Linked DNA regions of Homo sapiens: region 1 is linked to region 2. Evidence: fine-mapped expression QTL. A gene starts in region 2. The other region holds a variant in brackets. All regions are shown on one strand. Distances are between the middles of the regions.

The links. PIP is the estimated chance that this variant, and not a neighbour inherited with it, causes the effect.
Region 1: its variant is the best candidate, but not a certain one, in a credible set for the expression of PDHB in whole blood (INTERVAL, PIP 0.58).

Annotation. Positions count from the first base shown.
Region 1 is chr3:58,308,225-58,313,587 of GRCh38, forward strand. RPP14 (ribonuclease P/MRP subunit p14) reads left to right here. Exons shown (of 6, transcript NM_007042.6): 2 at 2,085-2,182; 3 at 2,283-2,367. The coding sequence starts at 2,106. It overlaps HTD2 (hydroxyacyl-thioester dehydratase type 2), which reads left to right. Exons shown (of 5, transcript NM_001348712.2): 2 at 2,283-2,367. Among named protein-coding and RNA genes, the nearest start is that of HTD2, 4.4 kb to the left of the region's middle. RefSeq lists an enhancer at 4,100-4,601. The variant CAAA/C (reference allele first, on the strand shown) is at 2,741.
Region 2 is chr3:58,431,747-58,437,119 of GRCh38, forward strand. PDHB (pyruvate dehydrogenase E1 subunit beta) reads right to left here and starts at 2,086. Exons shown (of 10, transcript NM_000925.4): 1 at 2,022-2,086; 2 at 1,885-1,938; 3 at 131-238; 4 at 1-47. The coding sequence starts at 2,063. LOC107986092 (a long non-coding RNA gene) reads left to right here and starts at 1,849. Exons shown (of 4, transcript XR_007095933.1): 1 at 1,849-2,496. RefSeq lists enhancers at 1,842-2,061, 3,104-3,713 and a silencer at 2,122-2,361.

The sequences.
Region 1 (5,363 bases), 120 kb before region 2:
TACCACTATCACTTTTCTCTCATTTGAATACCTACTTTGTGTCATAGTATTACAGTATTTTTTGTTTGTTTGTTTTGGAGACAGGGTCATGCTCTGTCACCCAGGCTGGAGTGCAGTGGTACAATCACAGTGCACTGTATCCTTAACCTCCCAGACTCAAGCTATCCTCCCACCTCAGCCCCTGGAGTAGCTGGGACTACAGGCACACACTACCATGCCTGGTTAATTTAAGTTTTTTTGTTTTTTTTTTTAGTGACAGGGTCTCACTATGTTTCCCAGGCTGGTCTCAAACTCCTGGCCTCCCAAACTGTTGAGATTACAGGCATGAGCACCACGCCAGGCCCCAAAGTATTAATGTTTGTTGAATGGATTGGTAGATGTAGCTCCTTGACCCTGACTTCTTTTCTCCAGAGGTCATCATCTGGGAGTGGTTGGAACTGGGTCTAACCCAGAGTGGTTTTGAAATGCTGGTCCATAGCTCTGTGACCTTGGATAAGTCCCTTTCCTTGATTGGGCCTCAGTTTCCTGTTCCCTGTAGTGGGGGATCCATATATTAAACAAATAGACAGTGTTAAGAGATTGCATAACATGGGGGCTTAACTTAGAGAAGGGTGTCAGAGAAGACCTTCATGAAGAGGTGGTATTTAAACTGAAAGTTGAAGGATGAATAGGACCTATCCAGAGGGAGAGCAAGGTTGGCATGGAGCCAAGGAAAGGAACTGTCTACAGAGAGATGAGCATGTTCTACGTTCTTGAAAGTTCAGACCTTTTAGAAGCTGCATTGAGTGCCCCTTCCAGGAATCCCTCTTCTCAACCCCTGTGCTGTTTAAGCTCAGTTGTTCACAGATAGTCTTGCACAGACCTGGCTTTTGGACTGAGAGCAGGCAGACACAGGATGGGAGGAGACGGCAGAACGACCATCCCTCATTCTTCTCTTTGTGTTCTGTGTTGACTGAGAGTAAACAAGAAGAGGACCTTCAAATCTTAGATTTTACTCCTTTATGTCTTTTCTTTTTCTTTGGATAAAGAGGCATCGTAACTGGTCTTGAGTGGGCTCAGAGTGGTTGGAATCTCTGGGCACCCTTGGGCAGATGTTACCTACGTTTACTAAACCTCTGTGTCATCTTCTCGAAAATGGGAATAATAATACCTCTTACCTCAGGAGCATTTTGAAGACAAGCTAAGGCATGTGAAATGTTTAGCAAAGAGCTGGGTGCTCATAAGGAAAATTGTTAGCCAAAATTATGTTGTTATGTTTTAAGTAAGAGTACAGTGATTTGACATTTATAGAATATAGAAACTTATTTTGTATTCGTATGGGTAACCTTAGTTTGATCAGAATTAGATGAGTTACTGTGCTCAGAAGTCTTAAAAACCAAACAGGAGGCCAGGCACAGTGGCTCACACCTGTAATACCGGCACTCTGGGAGGCCGAGGCAGGCGTATCACGAGGTCAGGAGTTCGAGACCAGCCTGACCAATATGGTGAAACCCTGTCTCTACTAAAAATACAAAAAAGGTAGCCGGGCGTGGTAGCACATTCCTATAATCCCAGCTACTCGGGAGGCTGAGGCAGGAGAATTGCTTGAATCCGCGAGGCAGAGGTTGCAGTGAGCCAAGATTGTGCCACTGCACTCCAGCCTGGGCGACAGAGCAAGACTCCTTCTCCAAAAAAAAAATAATAATAACAGGAAGGCCGGGCCTGGTGGCTCACACTTGTAATCCCAGCACTTTGGGAGGCTGAGTTGGGCAAATTGCTTGAGCCCAGGAGTTTGAAACCAGCCTGGGCAACATGGTGAAACCCTGTCTCTACAAAAAATACAAAAATCTGCTGGATGTGGTGGCACGTGCCTATACTCCCAGCTACTCAGGAGTCTGAGGCAGGAGGATCACCTGAGCCTCGAGAGCCAGAGGTGGAGGCTGCAGTGAACTCTGATTGTACCACTGCACTTCAGCCTAGGTGACAGGGTGAGACCCTGCCTTAAAACAAACAAACAAAAAAAACCCAAATAGGCCAAATTCTCATCAAAACTCTGAAAAATAGCATGTGCATTGGTCATTTCTAGCCCTCTTGACTTACTGTAGGTGTGATCAGCACTGGAAAAGATGCCTGCCCCTGCTGCCACATATGAAAGAGTAGTTTACAAAAACCCTTCCGAGTACCACTACATGAAAGTCTGCCTGTAAGTTTAGTTTCCTAAGTTCTATTTTAGATTACTTTTCTAACATGAATCTGAATAGAATGAAATTTAATATGACTTTTTTTTTTTTCACTTTTTTTAGAGAATTTCAAGATTGTGGAGTTGGACTGAATGCTGCACAGTTCAAACAGCTGCTTATTTCGGCTGTGAAGGACCTGTTTGGGGAGGTATGGAATCACTTGGTAGATTGAACATTCCAAAGATCTTTGTAAGAAATACAGAAAGAGGCCGGGCGCGGTAGCTCACGCCTGTAATCCCAGCACTTTGGAGGCCGAGGTGGGCAGATCATGAGGTCAAGAGATCGAGACCATCCTGGCCAACATGGTGAAACCCCATCTGTACTAAAACTGCAAAGATAAGCTGGGTGTGGTGGCAGGCACCTGTAATCCCAGCTACTCGGGAGGCTGAGGCAGGATAATTGCTTGAACCCGGGAGGCAGAGGTTGCAGTGAGCCGAGATAACGCCACTGCACTCCAGCCTGGCAACAGAGCGAGACTCTGTCACAAAAAAAAAAATCGAGAAAGAATGCTTTTCAAACAT[CAAA/C]AAAAAAAAAAAAATAAATTATACAACTCTGTATTTTTAAATTTTTATTCATTTATTGTAATAAACACATTTGTATTCCTTTTTTTCCTCCTTCATCCTCTCTACCCTCCTACCCTTCCCAGCCTCTGATAATCACCAATCTACTTTCTATCCTCATGAAATCTACTTTTTGTTGTTGTTGTTGTTGTTGTTGTTGTTTTTCTTTGAGATGGAGTCTTGCTTTGTTGCCCAGGCTGGAGTGCAATGGCACATTCTTGGCTCACTGCAGCCTCTGCCTCCCAGATTCAAGGGATCTTCCTGCCTTAGCCCCCCTGGTAGCTGAGATTACAGGCACACGCTACCATGCCCAACTAATTTTTGTATTTTTACTAGAGACAGGGTTTCGTCATGTTGGCCAGGCTGGTCTTGAACTCCTGACCTCAGGTGATCCACGCGCCTTGGGCTCCCAAAGTGCTGGATTACAGGCACGAGCCACTGTGCCTGGCAAGATCTGCTTTTTTAGCTCTCACATATGAGTGAGAACATGCAACAGTTGTCTTTCTGTGCCTGGCTGGCTTCACTTAACAAAATGGCCTCCAGTTCTATTCATGATGCTGCAAATGACAGAATTTCATTCTTTTTTATGGCTGAATAATATTCCATTGTAATATATACCACTTTTTTTTTTTTATCCATTGATGGGCACTTAAGTTCTACATTTTGCCTATTGGGAATACAATAAATATGAGAGTGCATATGTCCTTTTTTTTTTTTTTCCCCACCTTGGCTTCCCAAAGTGCTGGGATGACAGCATGAGCCACTATGCCCAGCTGCACATGTCTTTTTGAATTGATTTCCTTTCTCTTGGATTTATGCTCAGTAGTAGACTTGCTGGATTAAATGGTATTCTATTTTTAGTTTAGTTTCTTTTGTTTTTTGTTTTTGAGATGAAGTCTTGCCGTGATGCCCAGGGTGGAGTGCAGTGGCATGGTCATGGCTCACTACAGCCTCAACCTCCCAAGCTCAAGTGATTCTCCCACCTCAGTATCCCGAGTAGCTGGGACCACAGGCGTGTGCCACCACGCCAATTTTTTTACTTGTAGAGGCAAGGTCTCACTATGTTGCCCAGGCTCCTGGACTCAAGCAATCCTCCTGCCTTGGCCTCCCAAAGCACTGGGATTACAGACATGAGCCACTGCACCTGACCTATTTTTAGTTTTTTGGGAAACCTCCATACTGCTCTCCACAGTGGTTGTACATTTACATTCCTCCCAGTAGTGTGTGAGGGTTCCCCTAGAGATTATTTTATTTTATTTTTATTTATTTATTTTTTGAGACAGAGTCTCGCTCTGTCACCCAGGCTGGAGTGCAGTGGCACAACCTCCGCACCCCCCCCCGCCCCTCCCGGATTCAAGTGATTCTCCTGCCTCAGCCTCCCGAGTAGCTGAGACTACAGGTACCTGCCACCACGCCCAGCTAATTTTTGTATTCCCCTAGAGATTATTTTAAAACTGTGTTTGAAATTGCAGAAGTAAACTTTCAGAAGTGATGAATTTTGTTGGGTTTATTCTAATATGCCTTCTGTTTGACAAGGAACACGTTAGACAAATGATTGTTGTAGCACAGTGCTACTCAAAGTGTGGCCTAGACTGGCACCTGCAAACTCTTTTCCCATCTTGAAGAGATAAGGAATTTGCAGCAGAACCACTTTTAATGAGAAAGTCTCCTTATGGGCCAGGCGCAGTGGCTCACTCCTATAATCCCAGCTCTTCGGGAGGCTGAGATGAGCAGATCACTTACAGTCAGGAGTTTGAGACTAGCCTGGCCAACGTGGTGAAACGCTTTCTCTACTGAAAATACAAAAATTAGCTGGGCATGGTGGCGCACGCTTGTAGTCCCAGCTACTTGGAAGACTGAGGCAGGAGAATTGCTTGAACCTGGGAGGCAGAGGTTGCAGTGAGCAGAGATCACGCCACTGCATTCCAGCCTGGGCAACAGAGCAAGACTCTGTCTCAAAAAAAAAAAAAAAAAAAAGGGCTGGGCACGGTAGCTCACGCCTGTAATCCTAGCACTTTGGGAGGCCAAGGCAGGCAGATCCCAAGGTCAGCCGATCAAGACCATCCTGGCTAACACGGTGAAACCCTGTCTCTACTAAAAACACAAAAAGCCGGGCGCAGCGGCGGGCACCTGTAGTCCCAGCTACTCGGGAGGCTGAGGCAGGAGAATGGCATGAACCCGGGAGGTGGAGCTTGCAGTGAGCCGAGATCACGCCACTGCACTCCAGCCTGGGCGACAGAGCGAGACTCGGTCTCAAAAAAAAGGCTCCTCATGAAAAAAAGATGAACTGAACTAAACATGGTGATTAATGATACTATTGGTTTATATTCTGATTCAACTCATTATTTTGTCATAGACCAGCATTTTAAGCAACTTTGAGAACAGAAGTAGAGAAGTAGAGTTTCAGAAGTTGAAAGAAGACAGGATGCTCAGGAAATTATTTTGTGATTCATATAGTCTGTCAAATCAAAATATGCTAAGTACCTCATCAAAATTTAAAACTTTTACTCTGCAAAAGACTCTTAAGAGGATGAAAGGGCCAGGTGCAGTGGCTCACAGCTGTAATCCCACCACTTTTGAGAGG
Region 2 (5,373 bases):
TCAATAATCCTCTTGTCTCCATATTTCTTCCACAGCCCTCGACTAACCTACAATTAAGAGTTGATCCCTTAAGTGTATCTGGGGGTAACAGTGACCTCAATTTTGTATAACTTTCATATATTTTAGTTACCTTGTATGCCCCATCATACTGGGCAACTTCTTCTCCAAGCAGAAATACCTTCTCATCTCTTTCCAGCTCCTCATCCATACCCTGATTTATAGCATCACGAACTGTCACCTGTCACAGGTATGCAAAAACAGTCAATACAGAATTGTTTGGGATTCAACTAAGATTTTCTTCCTTTATATTTACCTAGGCTGCCCACAGCATACAATATAAAAACACTAGAACAAGCTTCTCTCTAAAAACTCAAAGAATTCTAAAAGTAACATTTCTATTACACATAGTTGGTCTTTGCATGTGTTAATGTACTGAGTGCTCACTAGGTGCCAAGTACTGCCAAATACTTTGCATCCAGAATGTAGGAGTTGCTCTTTTAATATAATGAATGGTAAAATCTAGTTAAAAAAAGGAAGGAGAGGAGAATTAACATACAATCCATCAATTCCACTTCTATGTATATGCCCCAAATAATTGAAAGCAGGGATTCAAGCATATACTTGCACATCAATGTTCACAGCAGCATTACTCACAATAGACAAAACAAGGCCAGGCACGGTGGCTCACACCTGTAATTCCAGCACTCTGGGAGGCCAAGGCAGGTGGATCACTTGAGGTCAGGAGTTCGAGACCACCCTGGCCAACATGGTGAAACCCATTCTCTACTAAAAATACAAAAATTGGCCGGGTGTGGTGGCGGGTGCCTGTAATCCCAGCTACTCGGGAGGCTGAGGCAGAATTGCTTGAACCCAGGAGGCAGAGATTGCAGTGAGCTGAGATAGTGCCACTGCACTCTAGCCTGGGCAGCAAGAGCAAAACTCCGTCTCAAAAAAAAAAAAGAAAATGTCGGGCTGAGCGAGGTGGCTCATGCCTGTAATCCTAGCACTTTGGGAGGCCAAGGCAGGCAGATCACTTGAGGCCAGGAGTTCAAGACCAGCCTGGGCAATATGGTGAGACCCTGTCTGTACTAAAAATACAAAAATTAGCCCGGTGTGGTGGCACCGGCATCTAATCACAGCTACTCAGGAGTGTGAGGCGCGAGAATCCCTTGAGCCCAGGAGGTGGAGGTTGCAGTGAGCTGAGATCGCGCCACTGCACTCCAACCTGGGTGACAGAGGGAGACTATCTCAAAAAAATATACATATATATATTATTCAGCCTTAGGAAAGAATCAAACTCTGACGCATGCTACAACATGGATGAACCTTGAGGACATTACGCTGAGATAAGCCAGACACAAAAGGACAAATGATGCCACTTATAAGAAGTTCTAGAATAGGCAACCTCATAAAGACAGAAAAGTACAACAGGGGTTACCAGGGGTTTGGGGAAGGGAAATGAGGAGTTACCGAGTAATGGACAGTTTCTGCTTGGGATGATTAAAAAGTTCTGGAAATGGATGGTGGTTAATGGTTGTACAACATGGTGAATGTACTTAATGCCACTGAATTATACACTTCTAAAAAGTACATTTTAAGTTAGGTCTATTTTGCTGCAATTTAAAGAAAAAAACATGGAGTGAGGGAGGAAACGCCTAGTCTTAGTTTTCCCCCATTGCCCAGCCAGCTGTGAGGTGGTGACTCGCCGGTGTGCTAATTGCCAGGCGGCGACAGAGGCAGCAGGAGCTCCACGGAGGATGCTGGCTCCGCAAACCCAAGGCCCACGGCGCCGGAAGGCCACAGCGCAGGCGCGACTCCGGCCTCCTTCCCGAGAGAAGGGGGGACCCTCCCCGCCCTCGTCCGACGAGCACCCGCGCCTGTTACCTGCAGCGCAGCCGGCGCGGTCCAGTGAAAGCGCCTCTTCAGCAGCCCGGAGACCTGGCAGGGAGAGAGGAAGATGACGGCGGGACGCAGGGTGGGCAGGGGTCGCGTGGGAATACAGGCCGCGCGCTGCTGCCTACCTCCCGAAGGGGTCTCCGCACCAAGCCAGACACCGCCGCCATCTTGGTCGTGTCCTCTATCCGCTGCCAAACGACAACAGAGGGGCCGGCAGACGTGAGCAGGCCCCGCCTCCACCGGCGCGGGCCAATGGCAAGGCGCGCCGGCTGCGTGACCCGCCCACCCGCCCACCGGGTGAGGGGCCGCGGGGCCGGGCTGAGGTGGCGTGTGGGTGGCCGTGCCCCTCTGCCTGGAGCCGCCTCAAATCAACTTTATTGACAGTAGGCGGTGACCGACAGGCGGGGTGCACGCTGGGCACACGTGCCTGGTCGGTGTTACTTGAAGCGTGGGGACTAGAAGTCAGACCCTGAGGAGCATGATCTCTGGAAGCTGGAGAGACCTTAAGAGTTAGGCCAACCTGTTGTGGGTGCTGGAATCCTTTGGGCACCAAGAAGTGCTTGCACACGCTCTACTGATGGGGAACTTAACACTTCATGAGTGAGTCTAGTCTTCCCTGGACAGTGCTGTCTGTTGATTCCTTATAATGCACATCATAGCTTTCATTGATTGCATTAAGCACCTACTGTGAGCCAAGCATTGAGATATGTGCTGTATAGCTCATTCTCACAGTACCCCACTTGGGTAATTAGTGTTATTATTATCTCCATTTTGAAGACGGTTAAACTGAAGCAGAAATTGATTAAATGAGCCGATATTTTAATTTAGGACTGTCTTGACTCTAAAGCATGGTCTTTTTCCCACTGCTTCCTAAAGCAGAAGTGGATTCCTGCTTGGGGGAAGGTTACAACAACTTTAGAGAAGGGCGGCCCTATGGATGTAGCAGGACAAGCCGCAGACGAAACTCCTCAGACACCGAGTTAAAGAAGGAAGGGGTTTATTCGGCCAGGGGCATGGGCAAGACTCTTGTCTCAAGAGCCGAGCTCCCTGAATGGGCAATTCCTGTCCCTTTTAAGGGCTCACAGCTCTAAGGAGGTGTGCGTGAGAGGGTCATGATTGATTGAGCAAGCAGGGGGTATGTGACTAGGGGCTGCAAGCACCGGTAATTAGACTGGAACAGGATAGGGATTTTCACAGTGCTTTTCTATACAATGTCTGTAATCTATAGTTAACATAACCGATTAGGTCGGGGTCGATCTTTACCAGGCCCAGGGTGTGGCACCAGGCTGTCTGTTTGTGGATTTCATTTCTGCCTTTTAGTTTTTACTTTTTCTTTCTTTGGAGGCAGAAATTGGGCATAAGACAATATGAGGGGTGGTCTCCTCCCTTATGGGGAGGTGCCAAACACTTGGCCATAGGGACAACCTCTGGAAGCTCATTAGTCTTAATTTGGCCCTTGGGGGTCAGATGGGACAATTGAGCACCCAGTCTCCACCCATCCCCAAGACATTCCAAACATTCCCTTCTATGGATCACAGCTGCAGGCTGCCAAATTAGGAATTTGCAACTTCCAGTAGGTTGCTGACTGGGAATGGGAGGGGGTGGAGGCAAAGGCAGAACAGGCGGATGCTGGGAAGTCTGTGGCAGCAACAGAGGCAGACTAGGAGGCAACTTCCAGATGGAGAGGAGGGGGACAGTTTTGAGATCTATTTGGGCTAGAATCAATAGGAATGCTGTAAGTGCTAGGGAAGAGCAGAGGAAAATTTTGGATTTTTGTCATTGCTGGATGGATAGATGGGGTAAGGGAGGAGCCTGGGGCAGTGTAAGTGCCAGGAGCTGGGGAAGTAAGAGTGTATTTTTGTTTATTTTTTGAGATGGAGTTTCACTCTGTCACCCAGGCTGAAGTGCAGTGGGCCTCACTGCAACCTCTGCCTCCCAGGTTCAAGCTATTCCCCTGCTTCAGCCTCCCGAGTAGCTGGGATTACAGGCACCTGCCACCATGCCCGGCTAATTTTTTTTATTTTTAGTAGAGATGAGTTTTCACTATGTTGACCAGGCTGATGTTGAACTCTTGACCTCAAGTGATCCACCCGCCTCAGCCTCCCAAAGTGCTGGGATTACAGGCATGAGCCACTGCAGCCAGCCTTTATTCTTTAGATGACTGGGACATACCCAGGTTGCCTGGAGCCTAGGGCCTAGTCAGGGCTAAAGGTAGAAATTTGGGGACAGCTGCATAGAGATGACATTTACTCTCTGGGACTGTTTCATCTGTAAAATGGATAGAAGATCTTCAAGATATGGAATCAACACCTTCTGAGTCTCCCTCACCTGCCACCATCGTCTAGTCCCAACTGTCCCTGCCAGGGCCTCAGGAATGGCCAGCACTTCCTAGACTGCCACAGCATCCCTGAGAAACTCCTGAACTTGAGATTTCAGCCCCCAAAAGTTTGTGGGTGGTGCTCAGAATGAAAAAGTGAATCAGTCCTTCCCACCTTTCCCACAACCTAGCACCAAAAGATTTCAGGATCAGATTTGCCAAGCAAAAGGAGATGTTACAGGAAAGCAGTCCCGATCGAGATCCCAAGAGAGAGTTCTTGGATCTCACACAAGAAAGAATTCAGGGCAAGTCCACAGTGCAAAGCAAAAGCAAGTTTATTAAGAAAGTAAAGCAATAAAAGAATGGCTACTCTATAGACAGAGCAGCCCTGAGGGCTGCTGATTGCCCATTTTTATGATTATTTCTTGATTTTATACTAAACAAGGGGTGGATTATTCATGCCTCCCCTTTTTAGACCATATAGGGTAACTTCTTGACATTGCCGTGGCATTTATAAACTGTCATGGCGCTGGTGGGAGTGTAGCAGTGAGGATGACCAGAGGTCATGCTCATCGCCGTCTTGGTTTTGGTGGGTTTTGGCCAGCTTCTTTCCTGCAACCTGTTTTATCAGCAAGGTCTTTATGACCTGTATCTTGTGCTGACCTCCTATCTCATCCTGTGACTGAGAATGCCTAACTGTCTGGGAATGCAGCCCTGTAGGTCTCTGCCTCATTTTACCCAGCTCCTATTCAAGATGGAGTTGCTCTGGTTCACATTCCTCTGACATTTGCCTCCTCCCTATTATGAGAGAAACTTTAATCCTAAAAGTTTCGGAGGGATGAAGATGCATCTTCTGTAACTTCTTCAGGCTGAATAGGGGTGATGATATTCCTGCTTAACTATTAGGGTCCCTTATGTTCAGAGTAGAGAGGAGCTCAGAAAACATCAGTATAGTGAGGGCCATTCATAACTCCAAGTTCTGACAAAAGGTGATATCTGGAAGATTAATAAGTATTCAGTTTAAGAAAACATTCAGTAAGCTTATCCTGCACTCCTACACAAAGAGTACAATAGCAATATATTCCACAAGAGTAAAGCAAAATAAGTAAAATTATCCCAAGTAAACTAAATTAGAAGGCTTTCCATGAACTGGGCAACTG